Regions from separate parts of the Homo sapiens genome. Here region 2 is linked to region 1. The links come from fine-mapping of genetic effects on gene expression. A gene starts in region 1. The other region holds a variant in brackets. All regions are shown on one strand. Distances are between the middles of the regions. Region 1 holds the start of STAT6 (signal transducer and activator of transcription 6). Region 2 overlaps NEMP1 (nuclear envelope integral membrane protein 1).

The links. PIP is the estimated chance that this variant, and not a neighbour inherited with it, causes the effect. A credible set is the group of variants that fine-mapping cannot tell apart.
Region 2: its variant is the best candidate, but not a certain one, in a credible set for the expression of STAT6 in whole blood (TOPMed, PIP 0.57).

Annotation. Positions count from the first base shown.
Region 1 is chr12:57,102,065-57,118,169 of GRCh38, reverse strand. It overlaps STAT6 (signal transducer and activator of transcription 6), which reads left to right and starts at 6,808. Exons shown (of 22, transcript NM_003153.5): 1 at 6,808-7,041; 2 at 9,871-10,007; 3 at 10,427-10,565; 4 at 10,856-10,939; 5 at 11,339-11,477; 6 at 11,590-11,642; 7 at 11,831-11,979; 8 at 12,571-12,702; 9 at 12,831-13,019; 10 at 13,357-13,444; 11 at 13,584-13,706; 12 at 15,249-15,341; 13 at 15,674-15,880. The coding sequence starts at 9,892. LOC124902946 (a long non-coding RNA gene) reads right to left here and starts at 7,448. Exons shown (of 2, transcript XR_007063334.1): 1 at 6,329-7,448; 2 at 5,291-6,213. RefSeq lists a silencer at 5,590-5,749 and enhancers at 5,789-6,734, 6,735-7,682, 15,344-15,844, 15,845-16,105.
Region 2 is chr12:57,049,738-57,065,842 of GRCh38, reverse strand. NEMP1 (nuclear envelope integral membrane protein 1) reads left to right here. Exons shown (of 9, transcript NM_001130963.2): 5 at 1,104-1,197; 6 at 1,658-1,772; 7 at 2,499-2,724; 8 at 4,898-5,071; 9 at 5,784-10,200. The coding sequence ends at 5,964. It overlaps MYO1A (myosin IA), which reads left to right and starts at 15,714. Exons shown (of 28, transcript NM_005379.4): 1 at 15,714-15,956. The variant T/G (reference allele first, on the strand shown) is at 6,602.

The DNA of each region.
Region 1 (16,105 bases):
GGAGAAAAGCTTGGCTGCTGAATAGGCACCACCAGTGCTTGCCTCAGTAGTCACATCAAATTCCTCTTCCTTTAAGAGCCAACTATTTCACCTTCCATTGGGATGTGCAACATAGGGCTTAAGGGCAACATTTCTGGTGCCAAACTAACTGGATTTGAATCCCAGCTCTCTCACCTTAGCCTTGAGCAAGTTGCTGAGTTTTCCATGCCAGTTTCCTCATTTGTAAAATGAGGGTTATCAGCACTATCCAATAGAATTTTCTGTGATGATGGAAATGCCCCGTGTCTGTTTTAATATAGTAGCCACAAGTCATACATGGCTATTGCACATTTGAAATGTGGCTGATACATCAGAGGCATTGAATTTTAAAATTGAAATAGCCACAAGTGGTTAGTAGCTACTGTAGTGGGCACATAGTTCTAGCTCATAGTATTATTGTAGGATAAAAAGTACAGTGCTTCAATTTTAGAGTAAGAATTGAAGTAACACATAAAGCCCCACTAAGTGTTAGTTATTATTTTTGCTGTTATCCACTGATGTCCTGGTCACTTTATCCGTGAAGTCTTTGTTTATTTTATTTTATTTTAATTTTTTTGAGACAGGCTCTCACTCTGTTGCCCAGGCTGGAGTGCAGTGGTGCAATTATGGCTCACTGCAGCCTTGACATCCTGGGCTCAGGGATCCTCCCACCTCAGCCTCCCCAGTGGCTGGAACTATAGGCATGCACCACCACACCAGGCTAATTTTTGTATTTTTTCGAGAGACGGCATTTCACCATGTTGCCCAGGCTGGTCTCAAACTCCTGGCCTCAAGCAGTCTGCCCACCTCAGCCTCCCAGAGTGCTGGGATTACAGGCATGAGCCACCACGCCTGGCCTTCTGTGAAGACTTTAGCAGCTGACTGTCTTCCTGTCCACCTCAAGTTTTCCACAAACCCAGATGGTTTCAGTGCTCCGGCAGGTAGTCCAGCCAACACCCTGGCCTCTTGGTTCCTTGTTCTCTTTGACTCCAATGACTTACCTCTGTGTTGCTGTAGCCACTCACTCTCATAGCCACCACCTTTATCACACCCTTGCAGGAGAGCTGGACTGAAATCTCACTCCCTAGATTCTGACCGCAACATCCTAGCCTTACAGCTCTTCTTTCCCTTGCCCCCGGGAAGCCTGGTCTTTAAGTCTGTTGAGACTTCCAGTTTCTTGCCTTTCTTTCCTTTGACACTGGCCCCTCATGTCTTCACTTTTCTTCCTAACCAGTCTCCATTCCACAATGCTTCACCTCTGCTCTTCAACTGTGTCGTCTCCCTCTCTGTTGTTATTAACCTTCTGAATGGATCTCCTGGCTTCAGAACTTATCTTTTAAATCCATCCTCCACATTGCAGCTAGGCTGATCCCTCTACTAAATCTTATCATATGACTCACCTGTCTAAATCTTCTAATGCTCCGCATTGCCCATTACTACCCATTCCCAGAAGGTACCATGCTCCCACAGGTATCCATGCCTTTGCATATGCTAGACCTTCTTCCTGCTTTAATGCTTTCCTTGTTCTTTGCCTGAATAATTCTTATGTCCCTTCAAGATTCATTTCAGGCTGGGCACGGTGGCTCACGCCTGTAATCCCGAAACTTTGGGAGGTCGAGGCAGGAAGATCACTTGAGTTCAGGAGTTTGAGAGCCTGGACAACATATTGAGACCCTGTTCTATGAGAGAGAGAGAGAGAGGAGAGAGAGAGAGAGGAGAGAGAGAAGGATTCGAACATGCTTTATGCTGAAAGTATAGAGCTGTCATAACTACAGAGCAGGAGGGTGGAGATTTGAAGAATGAAGGGGATAATAAATTGAACAAGTGCCTGAAGAGGCAGAAGGGAGGGGCCTTGAGCACAGGTGTTTTCTAATTAAATGATGAGTTGGTATGAAGATGGATGGAAACTTGAGGAGAATAGTGAAGGCCTGGGAGATAGAGCTGGCTAGGGGCCCTCAGCAGCTTCCCACAATTCTTTTGTGACCTCCTCCTCCTTTCCCTCATCCTCCACAAATCACAGTCCACTATTCAGTGTTCTTGAACTGTCTTGTCTGTGAAATGTACTGAGCTCCAGCAATCAATCCATCAATCAGTTTAGTCCTTACGTAGGAGAGTATGTATAAAACATTTAGCCCAGCACCAAGTACATGGGAGACACTCAGTTAATTGCAGCCCTTCATATCTTTACCACCAAGAATGCATGTTGTTTTTTCTAGCTGCTGCACAGCAGTGTGTACAGTATGATATGAGTCCTTGCCCTCCTTGAACTTGTGTTATTGTTGAGGAAGAAAGATGTACCCACAAAATAATTAAAAAGCAATACAAAGGAATATGTAGTGGCCACCAGTACCCAAATTGTGCTTCTGTTATTATTATTATTATTATTATTTTTGAGACAAACCCTCACTCTGTTGCTGGAGTGCAGTGGTGTGATCCTGGCTCACTGTAACCTCCACCTCCTGGGTTTAAGCAATTCTCGTGCCTCAGCCTCCCAAGTAGCTGGGACTACAGGGCAGTGCCACCACACCTGGCTAATTTTTGTATTTTTAGAGACGGGGTTTCACCATGTTGGCCAAGCTGATCTCGAACTCCTTACCTCAGGTGATCTGCCCACCTTGGCCTCCCAAAGTGCTGGGATTACAGGCGTGAGCCACCATGCATGGCTGTGCTTTTTTTTTTTTTCCCCACAACCAGCACTAAAAAGTATGTTTTATCATGACTTAGAATTCAGATACATATAGGGCCGGGAGTGGTGGCTCATGGCTGTAATCCCAGCACTTTGGGAGGCTGAGGTGGGTGGATCACCTGAGGCCAAGAGTTTGAGAGCAGCCTGACCAATATGGTGTCTCTACTAAAAATACAAAAATTAGCTGGGTGTCATGGCATGTGCCTGTAGTCCCAGCTACTGGGGAAGCTGAGACAGGAGAATTGCTTGAACCCAGGAGGCAGAAGTTGCAGTGAGCCGAGATCCCGCCACTGTACTCCAGCCTGGGCGACAGAGGGAGACTCCATCTCAAATAAAAAAAAAAAAAAAAGAATTCAGATACATATATAAAGCTGAAACAAAAGTTTAATTAAACAATACTTATCCTTACTTCGCTTGATGCCTTCTGATATTTTCTGTACTGTTCTATTCTACTTCAGTTTTATTTTTTAATTTTATTCACTTTATTTTTTATTTTTTGAGATGGAGTCTCACTCTGTTGCCCAGGCTGGAGTGCAGGGGTGTAATCTCAGCTCACTGCAGCCTCTGCCTCCCGGATTCCAGTGATTTTCCTGCTTCAGCTTCCCAGGTAGCTGGGATTGCAGGCACATGCCACTGTGCCCAGATAATTTTTTGTATTTTTTAGTAGAGACGGGGCTTCACCATGTTGGCCAGGCTGGTCTTGAACTCCTAACCTCAGATGATCCGCACACCTCGGCCTCCCAAAGTGCTAGGATTACAGGCATGAGCCTCTGCGCCTGGCCTTTACTTCAGTTTCAAAGAGTGAAGGTCAAGACACTGTTTTTTTTTATGTTTTGTTTTTAATTTTGTTTTAAATTTTTTTTGTAGAGATGGGATCTTGCTATGTTGCCCAGGCTGGTCTCGAACTCCTGGCCTCCAGCAATCCTCCTGCCTCAGCCTCCCAGAGTATTGGGATTACAGGTGTGAGCCATTGTGCTTGATCAAGATGCTGTTATGGGCTGAGTTGTGTTCCTCAAAAATTCTCTTGAAGTCCTAATCTCAAGTACTTCAGGACGTGACCTTATTTTGAAGGACCCCCTTATAGGGTCTTTACAGAGGTAATTAAGTTAAAATGAGGCCATTAGGATGGGGCCTAATGCAATATGACTGGTATCCTTGAAAAAAGGGGAAACTTGGAGACTGACTTGCATACAAAGAGAACAGTGTGTGAACGTGAAAATGGCCAAGGAGGGAGGCCTGGAATAGAGCCTTCCTTCACATCCCTGAGAAGGAATCAATCAATCCTGCTCAGGTTAACCTTGATCTTGGACTTCTAGCCTCCAGCATCTTGAGAGATTTCTGTTGTTTAAGTCATGCAATATGTAGTACTTTGTTACAGCAGCCCTAGCAAACTGATACACTCACCAAATCGATTTTGTGACTCACTATTGGGTTGTAACCAGCAGTACATAGACATAAAGTTATTTTTTCCTTACGCTTTATCTTGTGCAATCGTGTGTGTGTGTGTGTGTGTGTGTGTGTGTGTGTGTGTGTGTGTGACGGAGTCTTGTTCTGTCACCAGGCTGGAGTGCAGTGGCTTGATCTCGGCTCACTATAATCTCTGCCTTCCAGATTCAAGTGATTTCCCTGCCTCAGCCTCCTGAGTAGCTGGGACTACAGGCGCGCACCACCACGCCCGACTAATTTTTTGTATTTTTAGTAGAGACGGGGTTTCACCATGTTGGCCAGGATGGTCTCAATCTCCTGACCTTGTGATCTGCCTGCCTCAGCCTCCCAAAGTGCTGGGATTACAGGCGTGAGCCTCTCTTGTGCAATCTTTACCACCACTCAATGGGATGTCAAGGTCCAGGGGAGGGTGATACAGTCACCCTCACAGTCATGCAGGTGCAGATGTCATTAATGAAGGTCTGACAGACCCTGCAATTGTACAATCTGAAGATGAGTATCTCCTTAAATTTCATACTCTAGGCACTTTACCCTAGCCTAGACTCTGTTGAAGTAGGTATAACTATTATTCTCATTTGAGGGATTGACACCTGATTGTGAACCTCCTAAATGGAGTCATACCCAAGCCAGATTTGCCTCTAAATTCTGTTTTTTCCCCTTACATCACAGTGTTCCCATTGGTATAGTCAGTTACAGAGGGAGTAATATATACTATTTTTCTACCAGTACTTGCTCCTCGCCTTCCTACCCCCTAAAAGGAGCCAAAGTCAGAGATCACATTTACTCTTTTCCCTCCTCCTCTCCAAGTCTTTGGGGACTTGTAGCTCTGACACCCTTAGATGGTGAAACCTGGCTTCACCTACTGTCTGTGGATGTCTGCAGGCAGAGTGGGCACTCGGGAGCACATACAAAGCACGTGTGCCGTGAACACGTATGTGCACACACCTTGATCCTAGCATGGCTTGTTGGACAAGCCAATGGACAGAGTCCCTGCCTGCCACCTCCACCCCTGCTCTCCCTTCTCTTCCATTCACTGTCCTGCAGACACAGCAAACACATACGCACATACACCCTCAATATCCTTTTGGCAGTAACATGACCCCCAAATCTGGGGACTTCTATGTAGGATGGAGACCCTTCTCCTTTCCTCATACCTGGTTTATTATGAACCATAAAAATAGTGCCTGACAGTTACTGTGTGTCAGGCATTGTTCTAAGCCTTCAGATGTTTTACTGCATTTTATTCTCACATTATGGGTTAAGACTTATTTGCTCCATTTTACAGATGACGAGAATGAATCACAGAGTAAATTGCTCAGGGTTGTGTGGTTAGCAGCATTAGCAGGATTTGAACCCAAGCAGCCTGTATCCACAGTCCAGTCTTTTAACTGCTATATTTTGCTGTGTTCAAACCCTCTGCTGCCTGGCTGGGTCCACACACGTGCACTCATGTACAGACCTGCGGGGTAGCAAGGGATGGAGGAGGAGGAGCTGGTTCTGGAAATCAATTCAGGCACCAGGGGGCAGCATAGGCCTAGCTTTGGCCCCTCAGCCCAGCCCCTGCTATGGGAGGGAGGAGGGGAGTAGAAACTTCCTCCCACCGCCCCTCAGACACCACCTCTTCCACACACCGGGGCTCTCAGGTGTCCGGGAGTAAAGGCCTCTCTGGATCCCTTGGTCTCCTCCAGCTCCTCCCCCAGCAAAAACTGCAGAACCCTCCACTAGTTATGTTGATGACTCAGAAGTTGAGCAAGACTGTGTGTGTGTGTGTGTGTGTGTGTGTGTGTGTGTGTGTGTGGTGTTGTGATTGCAATGGGCTCTGTTTGTGAGCCTGCCTGCACGTGTGTGTGTGTGTGTGTGTGTGTGTGTGTGTAGTCTTGTGGTCAGGGAAGTTGTGCATGTGTGTGTTTGTTTCTTGGCGTGTCTCAGTGTTTACCCCAGAAACATATAGGAACTTGGCAGATAGGAACACAGCAGATTCGTATTCAAACTTGCCCCTTGTGAATCTGCAGGCAGCAGCTCCGGCTTGTGCTGGTTCCCACCACAGTCTCAGGAGGGGTGCCCTGTGAGGAGAGAGCAAAGACCAGCTTCAGTCCAAGGGACTCCTAGAGTCTTCCAGAATTCTGAGCTGAGGGTTCCCCTCCCCCACTCCCTCCCGTCAGTGGTCACGAGACCGACCTCTAAGGCGTTCCCTGCCGGAAGGGAGGGGGACCTAGGAGTTGGCTGGCATCGAGCTCCCTGGCGGCTTTTTAGGGTCCTCCACTGGAGGGAGCGCAGAGTCCAGAGGGATTTACTTTTCCTGAGGCCCTGGGGAGCCCAGTCCCTTGTGGGTCCAAACCCCAGCCCTTGGCAGAGTTTGAGTTTGGGAGCCAGGCAGTTAGGGGTGGCAAATCTCTGTTTGATATTGGGTGACTTTCTGGAGAAAAGCTGATGCTTTTGAGGGGGACAGAGTAAGTGGGGGTCAGCCTCCCCCCAAGCCTGGCTCCAAGGCCTGGACCCCAGTCCTGATCCCCCACGTGTTCCCCCACTCGGCACAGGAGGCACACATATTCACCCCACTTTCTTCCTCTTCCTCCTCCAGCCCACTTTCTCTTCTCTGTGTCGTCAGAGCTCCAGGGAGGGACCTGGGTAGAAGGAGAAGCCGGAAACAGCGGGCTGGGGCAGCCACTGCTTACACTGAAGAGGGAGGACGGGAGAGGAGTGTGTGTGTGTGTGTGTGTGTGTGTGTGTATGTATGTGTGTGCTTTATCTTATTTTTCTTTTTGGTGGTGGTGGTGGAAGGGGGGAGGTGCTAGCAGGGCCAGCCTTGAACTCGCTGGACAGAGCTACAGACCTATGGGGCCTGGAAGTGCCCGCTGAGAAAGGGAGAAGACAGCAGAGGGGTTGCCGAGGTGAGGGGTTGCCTCCGAGGTGGGTGCGGGGGCCTCTATGAGTGCATGGGGGTGGATTCGTGGGGGGAGCTCTCGGGATCCTCCCCTGGCTGGGTGGATGGTCCCCAAGAGATGGTTTCAGCTAGTGTTGGTGGCTGGTGGCACTGGGTTTTAGCAGTTTCGAACTCCTGGAGGAATCTGGGAGGGTCCAGGCCTCAGTACTCCCCTCCCCCATGGGTCACGTTTTCACAGCCTCACCCCTGCACCCCCAGGGCCATGGAAAGTCAGGGAAAGGAGGTGAAGGAGTGCCCCTCTGCCCTGAGTCGGGGGAAGTGGCCGCCCCTCCCTGGAAGGTTGATGCCAGAGGGCAGTGGATCCTTGTTAAACCCCTATCCTGCCCTCCACTAAAGGTTCCTGTTCAAGGGTGTGGCTGGGGCGTGAGCAAGCCCCAGATGTAGACCTCATGGTGGCCCAGACGAGGGGGAATTTCCCCCTCAAAACTGCTCCACGCTTGGCTGCTGTAGACGCTGAGATTTCCCAGCGGCGGCGCCGAGTTAACCCTCCTCGTGCTGAACTGGCTCCACCTCCCCGCCTGCCCCCACCGCCACATTCACGCATTGGGCAACTCAGAGAAGCTGTTTTAACTTTCGATCCTGTGGTCCCACAATCAGAGGACTCGGGCAGATAGGGGTTGAGATAAGCGAGTTTAGGCCACCAAGCGGGCGGACGAGGATCCCAGACCTTGCGCTTCCCTTCTGAGTTTGGGAGGTAACACTGGCCCCGCCCCTCACGCCGTGGCTCCTCCCTCCCTTCCCCTTCAAGGGGCTGAAGACAAAAGGTGCCCCTGTCCTGGTCAAGCCAATCGACCCAGCCTTGTTATGGGTTGGGGTGGGGAGAAATGTGTCCTCCTGATGGCTGGGGAAGAAGAGGGGTTGGATATTTCTAGCCAGGGCCATGCCAGGAGGCTGGTCACTCTGCAAGGGGATGCAGAGGAAAGCGGTGCCCACTCACTCCAGAGGACCTTTCTCTCTTGGGCTAGAGAAAGGCCTATTGGAGGAACCTGAGCAGGAGGGGTAAGGATTCTGCCTTGAGGAGAAAAGAGCTGGGGTAAGTGGGCACTGGAGGAAAGAGGGGCATGAAGGTCTTGGAGCAGAAACGTCCAGAGAAGGGACCTCTCCATTTTCCATCCCTCTGAGAGGCCTGGGAGAGGTGAGAGGCTGAACGTGCAACAGGAGGACTTGGGGTTACTGGGTTTGGGGAGACCTGGGGAGTTGTCATCCCATCCTCTCCCTCATCTCTGGGAGAGGGATATTATGAGAAACGTGAACTGAGAGGCCCCTGGGAAACCACTGGTTACCCAGTCCTCCCTGAACCTGGAAATGGGGATGCAACCCCCTCTTCTACTTCCCTGTCCCCTCCTCTCCTTTCTACCTGTTTTCGTCTCTCATCTTTGCCTTCTAGCCCTCCAGCTTCCTCTCTCTTCTAGGCTCTTTCCTCCTAGCTTACTAAACCCGCCTTTTTTCCAGTCTCTTCCATCCTCTTCCTTAGTTCTCTCTACTTTCCTTTTCCACCTCTCCTCCTTCAAGTCTCCTCCCACCTTCCCCCACTTCTTAGGATGATCAGATTTGCCCCTGGAAGGGATCCTAACAACACAGTGCGATGGTTAATCCCCACTCAGATTCAAAGCCTGCTTTCCAAACTCACTTACTGAGTGGCCTTGGGCAGAGTAGAGAAACTCCTTAAGCCTCAGTTTCTTCATCTATAAAATGGGATATTATATATTTTAAAAAGTGTCGTGAGGCCTGAAGGAGATAATACACTGAGTGTAATGCCTCATACACAGTAAGTGCTTAACAAATAGTAGCTGTTATTACTCTCCCATCCTCTTCATCATCTAGCCTTGTGGTTTTCATTTTTATTTTATTTCATTTATTTATTTATTTATTTTGAGGCAGAGTCTCTCTCTGTCGCCCAGGCTGGAGTGCAGTGGCTCGATCTCTGCTCACTGCAAGCTCCGCCCCCCAGGTTCACGCCATTCTGTCACCTCAGCCTCCCCAGTAGCTGGGACTACAGGCGCTCGCCACCACGCCCTGCTAATTTTGTTTTTGTATTTTTAGTAGAGATGGGGTTTCACTGTGTTAGCCAGGATGGTCTTGATCTCCTGACCTCGTGATCTGCCCGCCTCGGCCTCCCAAAGCGCTGGGATTACAGGCATGAGCCACTGCGCCTGGCCGAGCCTTGTGGTTTTCAAATTATCTCATGGAGTCCTAGAATTTTGAGAGGTTTGTCTAGGGATGCCTTTGGCGTCAGGAGGTGGGGAGAGGGAAGTAGAAGCAGTCGAGTTTCAGGCTTTCCATGCTTGCTTTCAACAGGGCATCTTCGGTTTCGTACCTTTTATGTAATTGAGATTCCACAGATTAAAAGCTGACATTGCCTACCGCTTTAAAAAGTTTGGAAAGTTTTCCACTCATCTAACACTCATATTTTATAGATGAGAAGATCGAAGCCCACAAAGGGAAGGCTCTTTGCCCACAGAACCAGAGCCAGGTCTAGAGCTGCAACTAAATCCTCTGCCACTCTAAGAGAGCTCTCGCTCTACTGCCCTGTCTCCCTTTGCCTCCCCATCCCTCTGGCTACAGCTCAGCTCTTCCCACCCCTGTGTCTATCACTGAAGGAGTTACCCCCATCTCAGGCATTGACTCAGGATGCCCCTGGTTTAAGGTGGTCTGGCCATGAGTGGTGGTGGGGACGGTCCCTAGGAGGGCTATCTATGGGAGGTCCCTGGCTGCCCCAGGAGATAGGCCAAGTTTCTTGGGCACCCCTCAGAGTGGCCTTATTTTTCTCCTCCAGGCAACCTCCAAGTCCCAGATCATGTCTCTGTGGGGTCTGGTCTCCAAGATGCCCCCAGAAAAAGTGCAGCGGCTCTATGTCGACTTTCCCCAACACCTGCGGCATCTTCTGGGTGACTGGCTGGAGAGCCAGCCCTGGTGAGTCCTGGCTGCTCCCTGCTGGTCCCCCAAGTCTTCCCTAACTCATCTTCCTTCTCCTTAGATTTTTCTCCCCTCACCCATGGATTCAGAACTTGAGACCTGTTATTCCATGTGTAGTGACCTAGATTTAGCAGGGAGTCTGTGCCCCATCAAGACCAGGCTATGAATGTTGACAGATGGAGACCCCATCTCTTAGGAGGCTGAGCCGAAGAGGAGGGGGGTTTGGGCTGGGACAAAGGCACTTCTCATAACAGCTAGAAGACTGGGAAACAAGGCGCATGGGTGAAAGCTACAGAGGGCCTAGATGGAGAATAAGGAGCGAGAAAGGAACTGCTGAGCTTTTGGCTGTGGGGTAAAGGGTCAGGAGAGCTGAGGAAGCCCTGGCCTGAGGTAGCCTCATCCTGATCTTCCTGCAGGGAGTTCCTGGTCGGCTCCGACGCCTTCTGCTGCAACTTGGCTAGTGCCCTACTTTCAGACACTGTCCAGCACCTTCAGGCCTCGGTGGGAGAGCAGGGGGAGGGGAGCACCATCTTGCAACACATCAGCACCCTTGAGGTGGGGCAGGAGGGGAGGGGACAAGGCTGGGTGGGGCTGAGGTTGAACTGGGTTGAGCATTGGGCCCTGGAAGAAAATTGGTTGGATGCTGGAAGCAAATTGGTGTTCCTGTGGTTAACTGCTAGCTAGCAGGCAAATTAGATTTTAAAAGCATGCAAATGCACAAAAACTTCTGGAGTCTACAGTTGTGCTTCCTTATAGTATATGTGTGAATGCAGGCCTGGGGATTGGAGGGATTGAAGGACATGGGTAAGAGCAAAGCTCACTGTTTACCACCCTCATTTCTGTAGAGCATATATCAGAGGGACCCCCTGAAGCTGGTGGCCACTTTCAGACAAATACTTCAAGGAGAGAAAAAAGCTGTTATGGAACAGGTATTGTGATATTCCACCTCCCACCCCAACTCAATCCCCTGAGACTTTGGCCTGAGCCATGACAAACTAGAAAGAATTTGAACCTCAGTAAAGGCTCAGTGTTCTAGGCCCAGGAATGACCAAAGGAGGTTCCTAGGGTCAGAGTGAACCCCAAGTCAAGCTCAGGGAATCTTTCTATGAGGGACTGAAGGTAAGAGGCCGGGGAGAACAGAGCAAGGGATAAGGAGCTGATTCTGCTAGGAGCAAGGTCTTATCTCCACGATATTCCAAAAGGTCAGGAAGAACTGCCAAAGGGGAGAGGGGAACAAGAAAACGCTATCTGCAGAGCAGAGAGTGGAGGCCAGGTATAGAGGGATGAGCAGAGTGTTTCACTTCTTGGCATCTGTCCTTCCTGTGTAGTTCCGCCACTTGCCAATGCCTTTCCACTGGAAGCAGGAAGAACTCAAGTTTAAGACAGGCTTGCGGAGGCTGCAGCACCGAGTAGGGGAGATCCACCTTCTCCGAGAAGCCCTGCAGAAGGGGGCTGAGGCTGGCCAAGGTGGGGGCCAGGGTGGTTCTGGGGAGTGTGTAGGAGTGGTTGCCTCTTGGATCTCAACCTTATCTGAACCTCTAATCTGTCTGCACCCTTGATTTCTGCCCCCAACCCTCAGTGTCTCTGCACAGCTTGATAGAAACTCCTGCTAATGGGACTGGGCCAAGTGAGGTGAGTAATGGGCTGACAGGTGGAGACCTTGGTCAAAGTGCAGCTGGAGGGATGGAAGCTAGACCTCAGAAAGACACAGGCTGAAGTAGGGCAAGGGAATGCCAGAGGAGTGAGAAAAAGAGCCGTATCCCAGGAGCTGGGTGTGGAGGCAGCGTGAGGCCCTGGCTCAGGCCCCTCTCTGCCCATAGGCCCTGGCCATGCTACTGCAGGAGACCACTGGAGAGCTAGAGGCAGCCAAAGCCCTAGTGCTGAAGAGGATCCAGATTTGGAAACGGCAGCAGCAGCTGGCAGGGAATGGCGCACCGTTTGAGGAGAGCCTGGCCCCACTCCAGGAGAGGTTGGGCTAGGGCTGATGGGGAAGAGGGGGCAAGCTGGGGGTGGGCAGCTGACCCTGCTGAAGGCCCTACAGGTGAGAGAAAGAAGCCAGGCGGGAGGGCCTTGGAGTGGACCAAGATGCATAAAAGCCAGTTCCAGCGGGGCTGTGCACACTGTCGTTCAGGTCGCATCCTGTACAAGTGGGCCTAGTGGAGGGGCACAAGCGGGGACTCATCCAACCCAGGCTTCTCTCCTCAAGCCCCATGCCTAGAGGAATAGGAGGGCTTTTCCATTTGGTTTATTGGGTGGGAACACTTTCCAATTTGCCACAAAGCACTGTAAGTGGTGGCAGTTGTCCTGGGTGCAAGAGCCGTCGGGGGAGAGGCAGCTGGGTTTCCACAGGGGGTGTAGGCACTGAGAATGAACCTCCCACCCAGACCCTAGGCCAACAGATCACAGAACCCCCTTCAGCCCAGGTGCCTTGCAGCCACACCCACTACCCACCCCACTTCTCCACACATGATAGCCTTTCTCCCTGGGTATAGGGGAAGGGGGTCTGGGCCGGAGCAAGCAGCCTTAATCCTGTGCCCCCTGACCACTGTCCTGGCCCCAGGTGTGAAAGCCTGGTGGACATTTATTCCCAGCTACAGCAGGAGGTAGGGGCGGCTGGTGGGGAGCTTGAGCCCAAGACCCGGGCATCGCTGACTGGCCGGCTGGATGAAGTCCTGAGAACCCTCGTCACCAGGTATTCCCCGGGAGCTCCCAGTCTGGCCTAGAACAGACCTCGGGAAGAAAAGAAGGGGGCTAGAGCTGTGGGGAGGGCACCAGCAGGGACCTAGCCCCCAACTCCCCTTGTGTCCTCCTCACTCCCAGTTGCTTCCTGGTGGAGAAGCAGCCCCCCCAGGTACTGAAGACTCAGACCAAGTTCCAGGCTGGAGTTCGATTCCTGTTGGGCTTGAGGTTCCTGGGGGCCCCAGCCAAGCCTCCGCTGGTCAGGGCCGACATGGTGACAGAGAAGCAGGCGCGGGAGCTGAGTGTGCCTCAGGGTCCTGGGGCTGGAGCGTAAGCTGGGATTGGACCTGGGGTTGGAGAAGGGCTGTTAGGGTGATGGAGGCAGCCTGGAGGGCTGGCACTGAAAAGAGCAAGGGATGGGGAGGGAGGGCCATGGGATGTGGAGACCCTGAATGGTCAAGGCAGAGGAAAGGGAGGGACCCATTTAGGGCTGGAATGGGGTGGGGGCATCATGATTTGGCCAAGATGGGGACTCCTCCCTTAAGAACCCAAACAGAGACATGGAGATTTAGGGCTGGTGACAGTGGGTAGTCTACACTCACCCATGCACTCGCCACACCTGACGACAGTGAGATGAGCTCGTTCACACTCTGACCTCCCCTGGCAGAGAAAGCACTGGAGAAATCATCAACAACACTGTGCCCTTGGAGAACAGCATTCCTGGGAACTGCTGCTCTGCCCTGTTCAAGAACCTGGTGAGGGGCTTTGGGGTGCAGTGAGGGGGGCACCACTAGGAGACTGTGGGACTCTCCTTGGAGAGGATGTCAGGAAGCCCAGGAGGAGCGGTCTCTGTCCTCATGACCTCGCCCTTGCTCTCCCTCACCCCACCCACAGCTTCTCAAGAAGATCAAGCGGTGTGAGCGGAAGGGCACTGAGTCTGTCACAGAGGAGAAGTGCGCTGTGCTCTTCTCTGCCAGCTTCACACTTGGCCCCGGCAAACTCCCCATCCAGCTCCAGGTGAACCGTGGCCCAGCCCTGCCCCAATCTGGGACCCCGAGTCCTCCTCCAATGCCACACACAAGGGCCCTGGACCCTCACCTCTTGTGACTGCCCCATACCCCATGTGTCTGGGATTCATGCACACTGGGGCCCGGGTGAGTGGGGGTGAGCAAGAGCATGGAGTGCACAGGGCAGGGAATGGTAGTGGATAGCAGCAAACACTTCGGAAGCACTTCCTATAGACCAGGGCACTCTATTAAATGATACATACGCACATGCGTGCCAGCACACACACGTCTGGTTTTCACAATAACATTATGAGGTAGGCAGTATTATCAGCCTCATTTTATAGATAAGGACATTGAGACAGAGAGTTTAAGTAGTTTGTCCCAGTCACACAGCTAAGTGTTGGAGCTGGTATTTGAAACCTGGAGGTCTGGTTCCATAGCGATGACTAATAACCACTTCTCTACGGTGAGGCCCTGATTGAGCTTCAGAACGCATTTAATAACATGGCATGAGCTTTTTGATTATGATGTGTGAGTCCAATAACTTCTCTGAGTGCTCAGAGCCAGTCCCCTGAGGAAACTTCTTGCTTCACTAAGAAACCCCTGTCCGGCTGGGCATGGTGGCTCAAGCCTGTAATCCCAGCACTTTGGGAGGCCGAGGTGGGTAGATCACAAGGTCAGGAGTTCAAGACCAGCCTGGCCAATATGGTGAAACCCCGTCTCCACTAAAAATACAAAAATTAGCTGGGCGTGGTGGTGCAGGCCTGTAGTCCCAGCTGCTCGGGAGGCTAAGCAGGAGAATCGCTTGAACCCAGGAGGCGGAGGTTGCAGTGAGCCAAGATTGCGCCACTGCCCTTCAGCCTGGGCGACAGAGCAAGACTATGTCTCAAAAACAAAACAAAACAACTCAGCACTTTGGGAGGCCAAGGTAGGAGGATCGCTTGAGCCTGCAAGTTTAAGACCAGCCTGGGCTACATAGGGAGATCCAATCTCTACAAAAAATAAAAAATTGGCCGGGCATGGTGGCTCACGCCTGTAATCCCAGCACTTTGGGAGGCCAAGGCGGGCGGATCATGAGGTCAGGAAATCGAGACCATCCTGGCTAACACGGTGAAACCTCGTATCTACTAAAAATACAAAAAATTAGCCAGGCATGGTGGCGGGCGCCTGAGTCCCAGCTACTCGGGAGGCTGAAGCAGGAGAATGGCGTGAACCTGGGAGGGAGAGCTTGCAGTGAGCCAAGATCGCGCCACTGCACTCCAGCCTGAGTGACAGAGCGAGACTCTGTCTCAAAAATAAATAAATAAATAATTAGCTGGATTAGGTGGTACATTTCTGTAGTTCCAGCTATTCAGGAGGCTGAGGTGGAAGGATCACTTGAGCCCTGAAGGCTGAGGCTGCAGTGAGCTGAGATTGCACTACTGCACTCCAGCCTGGGCAACAGAGTGAGATACTATCTAAAAAAAAAAAAAAAAAAAAAAAAAAAAAAAAAAAAAAAAAAAAAAAAAGGAAAGAAAGAAAGAAAAGAAACCCCTGTCCTCACCCTCTTCAGGCCCTGTCTCTGCCCCTGGTGGTCATCGTCCATGGCAACCAAGACAACAATGCCAAAGCCACTATCCTGTGGGACAATGCCTTCTCTGAGATGGTGAGGAAAGTCCTGGAGTTGGAGGGAACAGGGGCAGGGTGGGTTCTAACATGGGCAGTGGTGCAGGCCTGCTGATGGGGTGGTGGGCATGTTTAAATGGGTGTGACCTTAACACTTTCTCATGGGCCTGCTTTCGTGCTTCTGACCTCTTTTCACCCCAGTCTTAACAACTATCAGGCCACAGCACTGTAACCTAGAAAAAACAGCATGTTTGTGAGCGATATCAGGGGCTGTGGAGGGGTAGGCCACAGGCAGGTGGGAGGGATGAAGGCCGGCCCGAGGAATAACAAGACGGTAGCCTGCAGTGCTCTCTTCTTCCCCCTTCTCCCCAGGACCGCGTGCCCTTTGTGGTGGCTGAGCGGGTGCCCTGGGAGAAGATGTGTGAAACTCTGAACCTGAAGTTCATGGCTGAGGTGGGGACCAACCGGGGGCTGCTCCCAGAGCACTTCCTCTTCCTGGCCCAGAAGATCTTCAATGACAACAGCCTCAGTATGGAGGCCTTCCAGCACCGTTCTGTGTCCTGGTCGCAGTTCAACAAGGTCATTCTCCTGCCCTTTGGACCTCCCACCCCCAAGCTCTTCATCCCTGGGGCACTCAGGGCCTGCTCAGCCTCCATGCAGGGACCTTCCACTGGATTCTCCACAGTGCCCCCTCAGGTCCTTTAGGAAGGCCTGTCATGGACCAGGGAGGAAAAACCCCAGGCCTGGGGGTTGGCTCTGGAGATGCGTTCTCTGACATCCCTGAGGTTTTGGTCTGGGGGCCAT
Region 2 (16,105 bases), 52 kb after region 1:
GATTTAAGGAAAGAAGCTGTCTTATTACATAAGTGCAAGGTAGGCTAGGCGTGGTGGCTCAGGCCTGTAGTCCCAGCACTTTGGGAGGCTGAGGCGGGCAGATCACTTGAGCCCAGGGAGTTCGAGACCAGCCTGAGCAACATGGTGAAACCCTGCCTTTACAAAAAATACAAAAAAGTCATGGTACCAGCTACTCGGGAGGCTGAGGTGGGAGAATCACCTGGGCCCAGTAGATCAAGGCTGCAGTGAGCCATGATGACGCCATCGCACCCCAGCTTGGGCAACAGAGTGAGACTTTGTCTCAAAAAAAAAAAAAAAAAAGATGAACCAAGCACTGATATAGAAGCTGTAGCAAGTTATTCAGAAGATCTAGCTAACATCATTGTTGAAAGTGGCTACAATTAAAGAGCTCCTCAGTGTAGACAAAATAGCCTTATACTAGAAGAAGATGCCATTGAGGACTTTGATAGCGAGAGAGAAGTCAGTGCCTAGCTTCAAAGGAGGGGTGATCCTCTTGTTAAGGGTTAATGCTGTTGGAGGATTGACTCCAGTTTTGAAAGAAGTTGTGGTAAAATGCTATCAGACAGTATTGCATGCTTTAGAGAAATCTTCATTGAAAGGATGAGTCAATGCAGCAAACTTCATTATATTTTAAGAAATTGCCACAGCCACTCCAGCCTTCAGAAACCACTGCCTTCATCAGTCAACAGCCATCAACATGGAAGTGAGACCCTCCACCAGCAAAAAAAATGATGACTCACTGAAGGCGTAGATGATCTTTAGCAGGTTTTAGCAAAGTATTTTTAATTAAGGAATATATATTTTTAAGACATAATGCTGTTGTACACTTAATATACTATAATATAGTGTAAACAATTTTTATATGCAGTGGGAAACCAAAAAATTTGTGTGACTTACTTACTGCAATTGCAATATTTGGTTTATTGCAGTGGTCTGGAACCAAATTTGAAATGTCTCTGATGCTTGTACTGCTCTAATCTTGTACCTTTTAAAATCTTTCGGCTGGGTTAGTTGTCCTAGTTTCAACAGTGCTATGTATGAAATATATACATATGGTCATGAAATACATTTTTTTCCTGCAGAAGTCAAATTTTCTACTACTCTACTGGGATGACTGTGGGAATTGTGGCCTCTCTGCTAATCATCATTTTTATACTATCTAAGTTTATGCCTAAGGTAAGTATCAGAATCTTCATGTGCAGCTAGAATGAATTTGGATAGCTGAAGGACTGTTTTCCTGGGTAATCTTAGAAAACTGAAAATGTGTATTGATGGCTGATGAGTCAATATCCTACTCTCCTTGATTCAGAAAGGTACTTTCCACGATGAAACTTGGAGCCTGATTACAAATTCTTTCTTTTTATATAAAATCCTGTGCTCAGAGGGGGATTAAAGTCTGCTTCCTGTTTTTTAATTATATAGCCAGGCTTTTAAGTTATTTAGCATTTCATCTTCCCAGTGTTCGTTGCAGACTGTACCATTTTAAGTATAAAGGACATCTTTTTAAGAGAAGTGTTTTTTGTGCATTTTGAGTAGGTTGAATTTTTTAAAAAAAAAATCATAGTTCCATTTTGCTTCTTTTATGTATGGAAAGCCTGTTGTAACTTTTTGCTTTCACTTCTACTCTCTGTCTTAGAAAAGTCCCATTTACGTCATCCTGGTGGGAGGCTGGTCTTTTTCTCTGTACCTCATTCAACTAGTTTTTAAAAATTTACAAGAGATCTGGAGGTGTTACTGGCAGTATCTTTTAAGTAAGTGTTGTCGGTTTTGCTTTCCTTTTGTACGTTTATAGGCTGTTTCAGTTAATTTGATCATGAAAAGATTTTGCCTGCTTATGGGATTTAATAGTTCATGTCATTTTTTTAAACTTTTAAAAATCATAGTTTTTCACTTATTTCTAATCCCTCTACAATTATCACCTTCTCTTAAATTAGAATGGTGCTGTTAAGGCGAAGATGTTCATTTATTGGTATTTATAAATATACCTTTCTTTACACAATAAACATCTTTCTGAAAAGCTGTAAGTTGACTTTATTAATGGAATCATATTTTAAATATACTTGGGGACCTTAAGTAAAAGACTCCGCAGTTAATTTTTTTCTCCTTCATTTCTGAATGAACTGCTGTAGATTTTATTTACAAAGTAAAAATCCTTGGTCATATAGATAGTAACCTTTGAGTTATCCTTTGAAGGGTGATTAATCTGGATTTCTGTATATTGGTTTTTTAAAATAGTCTATTTCAGGGTTGTTCAACATGTACCTTTAATGTTCTGTTTGAACCAAATAAATTTGGGACAGCAGAAAGGATAGAAACTTAGAGAAATATATTCTAAGAAAAAAGTGTGAAAAATTAAGTAAAAATCTGATTTCCTAGTTCAATTGGTGCTATATAGTAAATTAACTACTGCTTCCCACACAAATTATTTTTACCAAGTATAGATGAAAAAGAATGTCTTCTGATAACTCTTCTCATAGGTTATGTCCTCACAGTTGGATTCATGAGTTTTGCAGTATGTTACAAGTATGGGCCCTTGGAGAATGAACGAAGTATCAACCTGCTGACCTGGACCTTGCAGCTGATGGGCCTGTGTTTCATGTATTCTGGCATCCAGATACCACATATTGCCCTTGCCATTATCATCATTGCTCTTTGTACTAAGAACCTGGAACACCCTATTCAGTGGCTGTACATCACCTGCAGGTGACTGAAAGGCAATGTAACTTAATATTGACAGGTACATTGTGGGATGCAGTTGCAGCAAGAGGATACAGAGGTGTTGACCTGGGAGCTTCTTTGTTAATGAAAAGTCATTGTATTGTACTTCCACTTTTGTTCCTTCCCGAGTCTATTTTTTTTTTTTTACTTTCTATAGGAATTTTTATATTTTTATTCTAGTCATTTTATATAAAATGTCTAGTAAAATGTCATGTGTTCCTGTTACCACAAGGTGGTGCAAATTCTATCACTGTTTTTTTGAGATGGAGTCTCGCTCTGTCGCCCAGGCTGGAGTGCAGTGGCGTGATCTCGGCTCACTGCAACCTCCACCTCCCGGGTTCAAACGATTCTTCTGCCTCAGCCTCCTGAGTAGCTGGGATTACAGGCATGCGCCACCACATTCAGCTAATTTTTATATTTTTAGTAGGGTTCCCCATGTTGACCAGGCTGGTCTTGAACTCCTGACCTCAAATGTCAGGAGTTCATAAAGTGCTGAGGAGCTCCCAAAGTGCTTGGATTACAAAGTGCTGGGATTACAGACATGAGCCACTGCGCCCCGCCACAAATTGTATCGCTTTTATACCGTATGCTCATTGAGGTCTCCTGGGTTCAGATTTTTTTTTTGAGACAGAGTCTCTCTCTGTCACCCAGGCTGGAGCACAATGGCGTGATCTCGGCTCACTGCAGCCTCCACCTCCCGGGTTCAAGTGATTCTTCTGCCTCAGCCTCCCGAATAGTTGGGACTACGGGTGGGCGCCACTATGCCTGGCTAATTTTTGTATTTTTAATAGAGATGTGGTTTCACCATGTTGGCCAGGGTGGTCTCAAACTCCTGACCTCAGGTGATTTGCCCACCTCAGCCCCACAAAGTGCTAGGATTATAGGCGTGAGCCACCTCACCCAGCCCATTTCAGACTATTTCTCAGTGGCTTTCAGATTGCTCTGGAGGTCTTAGTCTTATTTTAAGATGTAATTCATAGCATGTTTTGTCACCTTGCATAATAAATATGGAATGTTACTAGGTCCTGAAGTTGTCTATTATAGATAGTCAAGGTGATGCTTTCAGTTTGGGAAACCAAGTTACTGGACCACAATCTTTTTTTTTTGAGATGGAGTCTTGCTCTGTCACCAGGCTGGAGTGCAGTGGTGCTATCTCAGCTCACCGCAACCTCTGCCTCCTGGGTTTAAGCGATTCTCCTGCCTCAGCCTCCTGAGTAGCTGGGGTTACAGGTACATGCCACCATGCCCAGCTAATTTTTGCATTTTTATAGTAGAGATGGCGTTTCACTATGTTGGCCAGGATAGTCTCAATCTTGACCTTGTGATCTGCCCACCTTGGCCTCCCAAAGTGCTGGGATTACAGGTGTGAGCCACCTTGCCCGGCGTTTTTTTTTGTTTTTTTTTTTTTTTGAGATGGAGTTTTGCTCTTGTTGCCCAGGCTGGAGTGCAATGGCATGATCTCGGCTCACTGCAACCTCCGCCTCCCTGGTTCAAGCGATTGTCCTGCCTCAGCCTCCCGAATAGCTGGGATTACAGGTATGCACCACCATGCCTGGCTAATTTTGTATTTTTAGTAGAGATGGGGTTCCTCTGTGTTGGTCAGGTTGATCTCCAACTCCTGACCTCAGGTGATCTGCCTGCCTTGGCCTCCCAAAGTGCTGGGATTATAGGCGTGAGCCACTGTGCCTGGCTAGAACCACAGTCTTATACCATGATTTTCTGTTATTTTCCCATCTACTAGAAAATAAGTAAGTATTTTATCATTTATTGGAAAATAAAGTGAGTTTGTTCACATTAGTGAATAATATTGACTATAATTTTTTACTTTCTATAGGCATTTTTATATTTTTATTCTAGTCATTTTATATAAAATAAAAAGGTCTAGTAAAATGTCATGTGTTCCTGTTACCACAAGGTGGTGCAAATTATATCACTTTTTTTTTGAGATGGAGTCTCGCTCTGTCGCCTATGAATTGTCACTCATAGTCTAATGTATCAGGAGTTCATTATAACTAAAGATGTCCATGGAATTTTTAGGAGTGATGACTCTTAATGTTCAGGCTGTCTGCTGTATTCTTGGCCCACTGAAGGGAGCTAGAAGTAAGGATGGATATAGATTACTGATTAATGATTCATAATGTTATTTTGGTGAGCACAGAAAGGTGTGTAAGGGAGCAGAAAAGCCTGTTCCCCCTCGTCTCCTGACAGAAGAAGAATATCGGATACAAGGAGAGGTAGAAACCCGAAAGGCTTTAGAGGAGCTCCGAGAATTTTGTAACAGTCCAGACTGCTCTGCTTGGAAGACTGTTTCTCGAATCCAGTCTCCAAAAAGGTAAACTCGGCCAGATATACCAAGCATCTATCAGGGTAATTGTGACCTTGAGTTCTACCAGAGATCATACTTCTAGAGAATCGTGCACTTGTGACCTTTGTTTTCCTGTTAATCTTCAAGTAGTCAAGAGAAGGGTGGATATATAATCACACATTAAGCAGTAACCTGTTTCCTCAGGGAACTATCTACTCTAGCTTTGATTGTAGCATTAAGATGGGAAGACTCCAGTACCATATTAAGTTTCCCTTCTGAAAGTTTTGCATTGCTGTCTGAGTTGGTAGGGTTCCCCCCTACCCACTTTTTAGTTGGGGGCAAATGTACCAATGAGTATGTGAAGCTTCAATTTGGAATCATGATGGCATAAAGTTTACAGGGCCATAAACGTGAATAACTGTAATGCCCCTTAATCTTCTCTTATCAGGATTACAGATGACTAAAGGAACCTTGGCACTTTCATAATTAGAAAGGATAGGCAAGTGCTTATTAAGCAGGATGGAGTTGCAGGGGTATTAGCCTATGATCCCAGCTTTCCTTTTCTCCTTAACTTCATGCTTTAGTCTACTTACCTGCCAGAGTAAGGACAAGGATGTTGGCTAGACTTAATATAATTTGAGTTGCGAGCATATCGAGGGCTTTAATTTGTTCTTATTTTGAAAGAAGACCAGAAAGGACAGAAGGATATTTCTAACGAGTATTATCTTCTCTTTTCCAGATTTGCTGACTTTGTGGAAGGCTCTTCCCACCTCACGCCAAATGAAGTTTCTGTCCATGAGCAGGAGTATGGATTAGGGAGCATTATTGCCCAGGATGAAATCTATGAGGAAGCATCCTCTGAGGAGGAGGACTCATATTCTCGGTGTCCTGCTATCACACAGAACAACTTTCTAACCTAGGTAGTGGTCAGTTATCTTTACGTGGACTGGCTTGGTGCCTTGGTCCATGTTGCATGTGTTGTGCAATTGCTTTCAACCCTTTGAAACAGAGTGAGATAGATAGGGTAGAAATTCTCCTACTGAAATAAGAGGCCTAAAAAGGCCTCCCTTTGGAAATGGGAGGTCTCTATGGGATCCCTGAGGAAGGAGAGTGGATAAAGTAGTGAATGCTGGGTAGTTCACTTCCCATTGGTTAAGCTAACAGCCCACTTTTATGTTTCCAGAGAAATTGGATGGCCACAGCTAGCATGGCATTCTAGCTCCTTCTTGAAAGTTGATTCAATCATGGCATTTCTGTCACTGGCTGGCTCTCCAAAGTAAGAACTGTTGTTAAGTGCAGGAATGCTTTTAGACTATAGGCTGCAACTTCCAGAGAGAAATCCACAAATCTGAGCCTCCTTCACTCCAGCTTTTATTTCAGTGACTTTAGAATAATTATTGATTTAACTGTTTTGGGAGGAAAATAGATTTTTATTGTTTTGTTTTTTAAATGAATGTCTTTTAAAAAACATAACAAACTCATGTTCCAGAACCAGCAAGTGCTCCAGAGTGACACACCCCCTAGGCCCCTACATATTTATTAATATGGATTATCCAT[T/G]AAAGCCCCAGGAGCTGTTGTTTTAAGCTTTGATTTAGTTCTCATACATATGATAGAAAGTCCTATTTGCCTTTAGGAACATGCCTGTAGGCTCTTCTGCAGGTGAGATGTACTGGGCTTTTTATTATATTCAACTTTCAATTCCATCTTAAAAAACATTTGTATTCTTCTCTTCCCATTCTTCCTTACCCTGCCTTTGCCCTTTCAGGAAGGGTCAGTTCCCTTACCTGTGAACTATGTATGTTCAGAGTAGCATTATTCCTGCTAGCTAGGAGAAGTCATCTTGTTTAGGGGATTTGGATGCTTTTTATACGTTCTCCATTTTCCTGTCATTGGGTCATGTTATCTTTGAGTTGCTATGAAATCAGGAAACTGTCTCCTTTTCCTTTCCCTTCCTTTGTCTACATGCTCTGTCCATTCCTTTCAGCCTTTTCTCACCACCCATACTCCCCCAAATCTGGGTAATTTTTAAGCCTTGAAACTATGTAGTTTCTTGATACACAATTTGTAGTTATGCAGCAGCCACAATTTGCATTGCCAGGAAATAGGCTCCAGGTTATCTTCATGCCTCTGGGTGCTCATTCAGCTGTCAAGTTTCCATGAACTTACACTTATTTATGATTGCGTTTCTGACCTGAGATGTATGCTGCCTGTTATTGCAGTAGCATTAGTTTCAGATTCTTTTGCCATTGCAAAGTACCCCTTATAAACCAGCAATGTCATCTGTGAGGAAGCAAATTCTCAAGTGTCTGTCATTTACTTGGTTCTTTTTCTTTGTGGTCTTCACCCTTATACCCTGGAAAAGTCTGTAATTACCTTAGCCAGGAAGATAGATGGTCATGGCAAGCGCACAGCACCAGACTTACTGGCTCACCAAGATGATGGAAAAAGGCAGATGATTTTTTAAAAAGCCGTAATGACTCCTTTAGACCAGCCATTTAGCGTGGTAATTTTGAAAGGCCTAGCTCCATTGCAGACTTCCAAAGGGTCAGCTCTGAGACTGCCCTCCAGGTGGGCAGTTGATTATTTCCACCAGTGTTTTCCAGAGCCTTAAACTGTCCTAAGTGACAACTACCTCAGTTGGCAGGAAAGAGACATATAGTAGAAAGTGAAAAATGAGCAGTATTTGGGCAGATGCTATGGGTTACAGTTGAAGGGTAAAAGGAACTTTACATTGGGAAACCTTTATACCCTTGTGAATTATGTACATGGTAAAATGTTCTCTCTCTACAAAGAACTATTAAAACTTCTGAAATATACTATTTTTTACCTTATTTATAGAAATTGAGACCTAGCATATTTAAGCATAAGTTTATTTTAAAAAATAATTCAACTCGTGCAAGTGGTCTCAGGATTCTCTGGAGATTTTGGTGCCTCCCCTACTTAGGGAGGTGATAGCTTGCCTATAAGGGTGACTTTTCCTGATCATGTCTTTATTTCAATGAGAAAGCACTGTGAAATTGTGAAAGATTCTCCTCTTTCTCTGTTTAATAAACCCCCATGAAATATAGTTTCCATCTCTAGACCAGTTTTTTTTCCACCGTGTTTAGACTTGAGGTGAATAAAATCAAACTGTTTTTTACTCCCTATCTGGTAGTTGGAGACCTGAGCTGTAGGCAGTGGAGATGGCAATTGGTTCTGCAGCCTGAGAGTTGCTCTCACACAGTGAAGGACGGTGCTGCTCTGGTGTGCTGTGTGTCCTTGCCCTGCCTGCCTGTGGCTCTGCCCAGATGCTTCAGATCCTCTGTGTTCCGGAGATTGCTTGACTTCAACCTTCTTTAGGAGCTGCTCTTGTCTCCCTCTTGGCCACTTAGTTTGCTGGCTCAGTCACTACTTGAAGACCCCATTTAATTTTTCTCTGGCAGTTATAGCTCTTGTGATTTCAGTACAGTCTCATCTCTCAGACCAATCTCATCAAGAAGGATTGAAGGGATAACTATGAGGTAAGCTGGACATTGGAGCCGTGTTTGCTGCCACGTCAGCGTCTTGCTGGGTGAATGTCAAGCCATAAATGGGCTCCAGGGCTCTGGATCTCATCAGCATTGGAAATCTATTGCCTCTCATCAGTCTGACCAAATTATGTAGAGCATTAATGTAGAGACTCCCATTAATGGGAATACAAGAGGCAGCTGGCATAAAACATTTCTTTCACTTTCCTTTCCCACTCAGATTGCTTCAAGAGACCAACAGAACACAGGGATCAAAAACAAGGAAAATTTAGCAACTTCATTACCTTCTAATAAGTAATTCCTGTTAGCCACTGCATCCCACCAAAACTAGTTTATTTTTCCCCTCAAATTCATGATTTTTACGTCTGTTACAAAGGGAATTTTGCTGATAGCTCTTTGGGTCCCACTGTTCCATTTTATGCTAATAGATTCCATTCTAGGGCCCAGCCGTCTCTTGACTGATGGTGTTCCCTTTAACCCTTGGCATGTATAATAGAATTTTGGTGAATGAAAGAACCCAAATAGGCCAGATAGTCCCCCCAGGCCCTGATATCCATAAAAGGCTTGGGAATGCATTATGTAATTGTCCTTAGTCTTTTTGTTGTTTTAGAAAAAAAAAACAAGATGGGCTCAGATGGATGCCTACGTAAAAATGGTTCCTAGCTGTGTACTCATAACTTTTCTTTGAATTGAGTAGTGAAAGGAAGGAGGAGGAAAGGAAATTAAATGTCCTTCTAGTATTCTCTGGACTCAAGTCTGACATATGAGATAATAACCTATATTGAAATGCCAAGAATTGTATCTGAAACAAGAGAACAGTTTGACACATTTATCATGCCTTCATATTACATATTAACTGAAACCAATTAATAAACATATGAAATATCCATTGCACAAGGCAAAGGCACCTAAACCTTTTGTTTCTTTTTCTACATAGCAGAAATTGATTTTTTTTTTATTTTTTTAGGGGAACCTATATAATTATGACCCAGTGATGTCTTTTGGTGACTTAAGCTTATGAATTCAGGTTACAATTGAGTTGATTCTAGATGGTTACTACCTTGAAAAGGATGTTGGTGCCTTATGTGACACGAGCCAGAGCCTGCTGGGAATAAACAAAGCAGATTCATGCCAACACCAACTCGTAGCTTTAGTGGCAGATGGGAGTGGTCACAGACTCCCAAAATGTGGGGCTTTGGATTTCCACACCATCCCACGTGTGTGTCATCTTCCTCTTTCACACTCTTGATGATAATTTGAAAATGGTGAAATCACCTCTGAATTTGCCTATAGCATGAGCACATTCTTATGACAACATAACAAATAGTTCATAATGTGAATATTAGAAACTGTTACAGCCTGCAGTTACCATAATTTTCCATGTTTGTGGAATTGATATTGAAATAGCAGGGCTAAGGAATTACTGGCAAGTTTTAGCCTGTGGGTAATACCTTAGGGTTATTTAAATATTTGTAATTTTATTTAAATGTTCATGAATGTTTGAAAGGAACAAAATTATCAGGGATGGCTCTTTGCCATGGGTCTTATTTTCACCCTCTTTTCTGTAAGAAAAAAGAACAATGTCTTAATGTATTTTTAAAGTTTTTGGTATAGTTTCTAATTCCAATTTTAATAAAAGTTTTATAGATATATTGTGGTCTTTCTTAATGAACATAATATTTTCTTGTTTGGATTTCTTGTTTTCAGGTAATCAGCAATTTACTCCTCAGTTTCATCTTTCTAATGAGATGGTTTTGCATGCCACTGATTTCCCTTTTTTTCTTAGCCACCCCTTCCTGTCCCGAGTCTGTACTGGTCTACTTTCATCCTTGGACTGGATGATTTCCCAGGATGCAAAATCTCTAAGGGGTATTCTTGCAGGAGCAGCAGGTTGTACTACCATGCTGTCTCATAGAAAAGCAAAATACAGGTTATTCTTGGCCCAAGGAACTACTCTGATTATATTTTAGTTCTTTTTTTTTTTTTATGGCATAAAGTATCTCTTTTGTTTGTCCATTGGGATGGGGAGAAGACCTATGGCTCCAGCTATGGGATCCCTACCAAGAGCTCTGTATAGGGTGGAAGAGAGAGTAGGGCTGTAGTGAGCCTTATGTGTATTGAATAAAAACTTAAATTATGTCTAGGCCCAGCTTCTACCATAGGAGTCTGGTACCTTTCATTTTATGTATTGGCTACCTTCTTTGCTCTGGGAATCCTTTGTAATATTCATATTAACTCTGTACCTATGTTTTTTCATCTCATTAATTAATTATTATTATTATTATTTGAGACAGTCTCTTCCTGTTGCCCAGGCTGGAGTGCAGTGGCATGATCTCGGCTCACTGCAATCTCTGCTTCCCGGGTTCAAGTGATTCTCCTGCCTCAGCCTCCCGAGTAGCTGGATTACAGGCACCTGCCACCACACCCTGATAATTTTTGTAGTTTTAGTAGAGATGGGGTTTCACCACGTTGGCCAGGCTGGTCTTGAACTCCTGATCTCAAATGATCTGCCCGCCTTGGCCTCCCAAAGTGCTGGGATTACAGGCATGAGCCACTGCACCCTGCCTATTTATTATCATTATTATTTGTTTTGTTTTGTTTTTTGAGATGGAGTTTCACTCTGTCACCCAGGCTGGAGTGCAGAGGCGGGATCTTGGCTCACTGTAACCTCCGCCTCCTGGGTTAAAGCAATTCTCCCTGCCTCAGTCTCCTTAGTAGCTGGGATTACAGGCCCCCACCACCATGCCCGGCTTTTTGTATTTTTTAAGTAGAGATGGGGTTTCACCATGTTGGCCATGCTGGTCTTGAACTCCTGACCTCAGGTGATCTGCCCACCTCAGCCTCCCAAAGTTCATCTCAGTTATTTGGACTACATGGAAATCCATTGTCTATTTTTTTTAAGACAGAAAGTTGGCAAAGTAGGAAGAAAACAGGATGTAGAACATAAGTAAATTTATGTTAATGTACACTAATGACATCTTTTCTCCTCTTCCTTCCATAACTACCACTAGGTAAATAAGAGACATAGGTGATCGTTAATGGTTGAACTAATAAAAACTTAAAGCATAATTGCTAGATGTACATCATAGAGTTATAGTGAGGATAAAAAAACATGGTAAGTGATGAGCATTTTTTCATGTGTAAGTTTTGGCTGCATAAATGTCTTCTTTTGAGAAGTGTCTGTTCATATCTTTCGCCCACTCTTTGATGGGGTTGTTTGTTTTTTTCTTGTTAATTTGTTGGAGTTCATTGTAGATTCTGGATATTAGCCCTTTGTCAGATGAGTAGATTGCAAGAATTTTCTCCCATTCTGTAGGTTGCCTGTTCACTCGGATGGTAGTTTCTTTTGCTGTGCAGAAGCTCTTTAGTTTTATTCGATCCCATTTGTCAATTTTGGCTTTTGTTGCCATTGCTTTTGGTGTTTTAGACATGAAGTCCTTGCCCATGCCTATGTCCTGAATGGTATTGCCTAGGTTTTATTCTAGGGTTTTTATGGTTTTAGGTCTAACATTTAAGTCTTTAATCCCTCCTGGCCACCAGAGAAATACAAATCAAAACCACAATGAGATACCATCTCACACCAGTTAGAATGGCGATCATTAACAAGTCAGGAAACAGCAGGTGCTGGAGAGGATGTGGAGAAATAGGAACACTTTTACACCGTTGATGGGACTGTAAACTAGTTCAACCATTGTGGAAGTCAGTGTGGCGATTCCTCAGGGATCTAGAACTAGAAATACCATTTGACCCAGCAATCCCATTACTGGGTATATACCCAAAGGATTATAAATCATGCTGCTATAAAGACACATGCACATGTATGTTTATTGCGGCACTATACACAATAGCAAAGACTTGGAATCAACCCAAATGTCCAACAATGATAGACTGGATTAAGAAAATGTGACACATATACACCATGGAATACTATGCAGCCATAAAAAATGATGAGTTTATGTCCTTTGTAGGGACATGGATGAAGCTGGAAACCATCATTCTCAGCGAACGATCGCAAGGACAAAAAACCAAACACTGCATGTTCTCACTGATAGGTGGGAATTGAACAATGAGAACACATGGACACAGGAAGGGGAACATCACACATTGGGGCCTGTTGTGGGATGTGGGGAGGGGGGAGGGATAGCATTTGGAGATATACCTAATGTTAAATGATGAGTTACTGGGTGCACCACACCAACATGGCACATGTATACATATGTAACCTGCATGTTGTGCACATGTACCCTAGAATTTAAAGTATAATTTAAAAAAAAACATGGTAAGTTGGGTAAAGCAGTTCTCCAACTTTAAAGTGCATGGGAATCACCTGGGGATCTTGTTAAAATGCAGATTCTGATTCACTAAATCTTCAGTGGTGCCCAAGAATCTGCATTTATTTTTTTTTTTAAGAGACAGGATCTTGCTCTGTTGCCCAGGCTGGAGTGGAGTGCAGTGGCACACTCATAGCTCAGTGCAGCCTGGAACTCTTGGGTTCAAGCAGACCTCCCAATTCAGCCTTCCAAAGATTCTGGATTTCTGGTAAGCTCCCAGTTGATCAGATGGTGCTGGTCTGTGGACCTCATTTTGAATAGCAATGATGTAAAGCACTTAGCTTGTTGCCTGGCACATCTTAGTCCAGTCTAAGTATGATAAATGTTATTAGTACCAGATAGTTTATGAGAGCCGAGAAGACCCTCTACCACCAAATGTCTTCCTCACCATATCTGAAAATAGCTGCCTTTTTATTGTGTAACATCTTTTTAAAAGTTAGTACCTGTGGGAAGATTAATGAGTGAATTGGCTTAATCAGATTGCTGCCTTCCCAATTTGTCAGAAATCAGCACCAAATGATTTGGAATTTTTTTTTTTTTTTTTTGAGACGGAGTTTTGCTCTTGTTGTCCAGGCTGGAGTACAATGGCGTGATCTCGGCTCACTGCAACCTCCACCACCCGGGTTCAAGCGATTCTCCTGCCTTAGTCTCCTGAGTAGCTGGGATTACAGGCACCCGCCACCATGCCCGGGCTAATCTTTTTTGTATTTTTAGTAGAGACGGGGTTTCACCATGTTGGCCAGGCTGGTTTCGAGCTCTTGGCCTGAAGTGATCGGCCCGGCTCAGCCTCTCAAAGTGTTAGGATTACAGGCGTGAGCCACTGCACCCAGCCTAGAATTTTTTTTTTTTTTTTGCCAGTTTTATTGAAGTACGATTTACATAACAATATAATTTGCCAGTTTTAAGTGTACAAATTTGCTGAGTTTTGACAAATGGAGACAGTTGTATAACCACTACCACAATCAGGATATAGACCATTTCTGTAACCCCAAAAAGTTCCCTCTTGCCCCTTCCATGGTCTAGAAATGTTAATGGGGGAAAAAGGAAGGTGATTTAGGAGTCAAAGTAGAGGAAGACTAATACGCTCTGGTTGCTTCAGTTTTGCCTAGAAAGCAGGAGATTAGAAAATCCCAGCTGACTTGGATGTGTATTTCATATCTTGTTAATTTAGGCTGACCCACTGGCTCCAGTTTGCCTGGGACTTTCCTAGTTTTAACACTCAAATTCCCATGTCCAGAGAACCCCACTGTGTCCCACAGGCGGATCAGTACAGTTGGTTGCCCTAGCTGTGATGTTCATGTCATTGTTCTTACACCTGAGAGTGCCATCTCATTTTAGAGTCACTTTTCTCGTGAGTAAGCACATAGTAGGCACTCAGTTGACTGAATGGGTGGACATGCAGGTAAACCCCAGATGGCTGCAGATTCCTGGCCTAGAGAACATGAGACTTGGGTTTTGGTGCCAGCTCTGCCAGGTTTGCAGTGGTGTGACCCTGGAAAAGTGGTTTTCTCACTCTAGATCTGTTTCCTCCACTGGTAAATAGGTGATATTTGTCACTTCTGCCTCTAGGACATGGATACTGCTCCACCTACACATAGCATTATGTTTTGATGTCACTTCCACTCAGCTTTCTCTCTTTTCCTTGCCCCCCTCCACCTTCAAATATATGTAGTAGATCAATAAATTATGTAAAGGCAGGTTGATAATAGAACTGCTGATGTGCCAGGCTTACGCAGAGTGCTTCTGTGAGAGCCATAGAGTTTGGACCTTGCACCAAGCAGCCATAGCTGAGAGTTGGAGAATCAAGTCTCTCTTCAGTTAAGTGTCTATAATTACCTAATTTGTTCTTTCTGCATGCCTGGGAGAGAGGATGGTAGGCAGAGGGGGCTTGCTGTTTTTAGGAATTTTCCTGGCTGGATGAAGGGGTACTTCTTATCTATCAGAGGGAGCTATTACATTAGCTCAGGGTCTTACTCAGTATCCTAGTGCTGACGAATTAAAATTAGAAACTTCAGAACTTGGGCTGCAACTTTTGGCAAACTTAGGGAGCTGCATTCTGTTCCTGGTTCTGCCATGCACTAGCATGGAACTGTGGGCACATTGTGTAACCTCTCTGAGTCTGGTGTTTGTTCCTAGTTTTCCATTTTAATGGAGTATCTGTATTGCCTTCCTCGGGGTGGTGCTATTCAGTGAGGCAATGCAAGGGGGAGTTCAATGAAACTGGGACATCTATACACATGTGAGGTATTATTACTAATCACTTTAATCTTTGGGTCTCTATGATAGGGTCTGATTCATGGGGGAAGGGAAGTGGAGAAGAATTTGGGGATTTTGTCTGCTTAGCTCTCCAAGTAATCTCATTAACATCCCCTGACTCCCGATAAGATAGGAAGAGTAGGTATGAGGGAGGTACTGTTTTTTTGCTAGGAAGACACTCTTTGTAAAGACGTGTCTCGCCATGTTGCCTAGGCTGGTCTCGAACTCCTGGGCTCAAGTGATCCTCCCGCCTTGGCCTCCCAAAGTGCTGGGAGTATAGGCATGAGCAACCGCACTTGGCCCTACCTGTCCTTGACAAAATTCCTGACTTCTCTTTGGGAAATATTTTCCTTGGCTATAAATTCCATTCTTCCAGCTTTCATTTCCAAATTTGGGAGACAATGGAGCAAGAACCCTCCTTTAGTTAAGCCTCTCAGCTAACGCCAGCCAGATACCCTTTCCTACCTAGAGGGAGCTTGAGTGTCTCCCTCTGGGGCTTCAGGCCTGTGAAGGGTTAAGTGAGCCACACCCTCAGCAGGAACAGTCTGGACTTTGTGCTGATCAGCCATCTCCGGCCTCTCCTGGTTTGACTGGCACAGGGAGCCTGGGCTGGAAGAGGCAGCAAAAGGGAAAATCAGAAGAGTGGACACTGGCAAGAGGAGGGCAGCCTTTTTCCCAGCTTCCTTGCACCATGGACAGCTCCCATTAAGCCACCTCTCCATCCTGGGGCCAGGACTCTTATGCCCCATTCCTGTCAAATTGAGATTTCATCCACCATTCTCCAAGGACAGTGAAGTTATACCCTAGTTCCAGTGTTGGGTGAGTCCTGCCTTGACCTGTCACTGCTTCTCTTTAACACCTTGGGGCGCCCCATCTGGGGCCTCTTGCCTTTTTCCCTTCCCCACCCTCAACCAGTCACATTCCCACTCCCTTCAAATCCAAATCCAAAGAAGATGACTGCTCCCAAC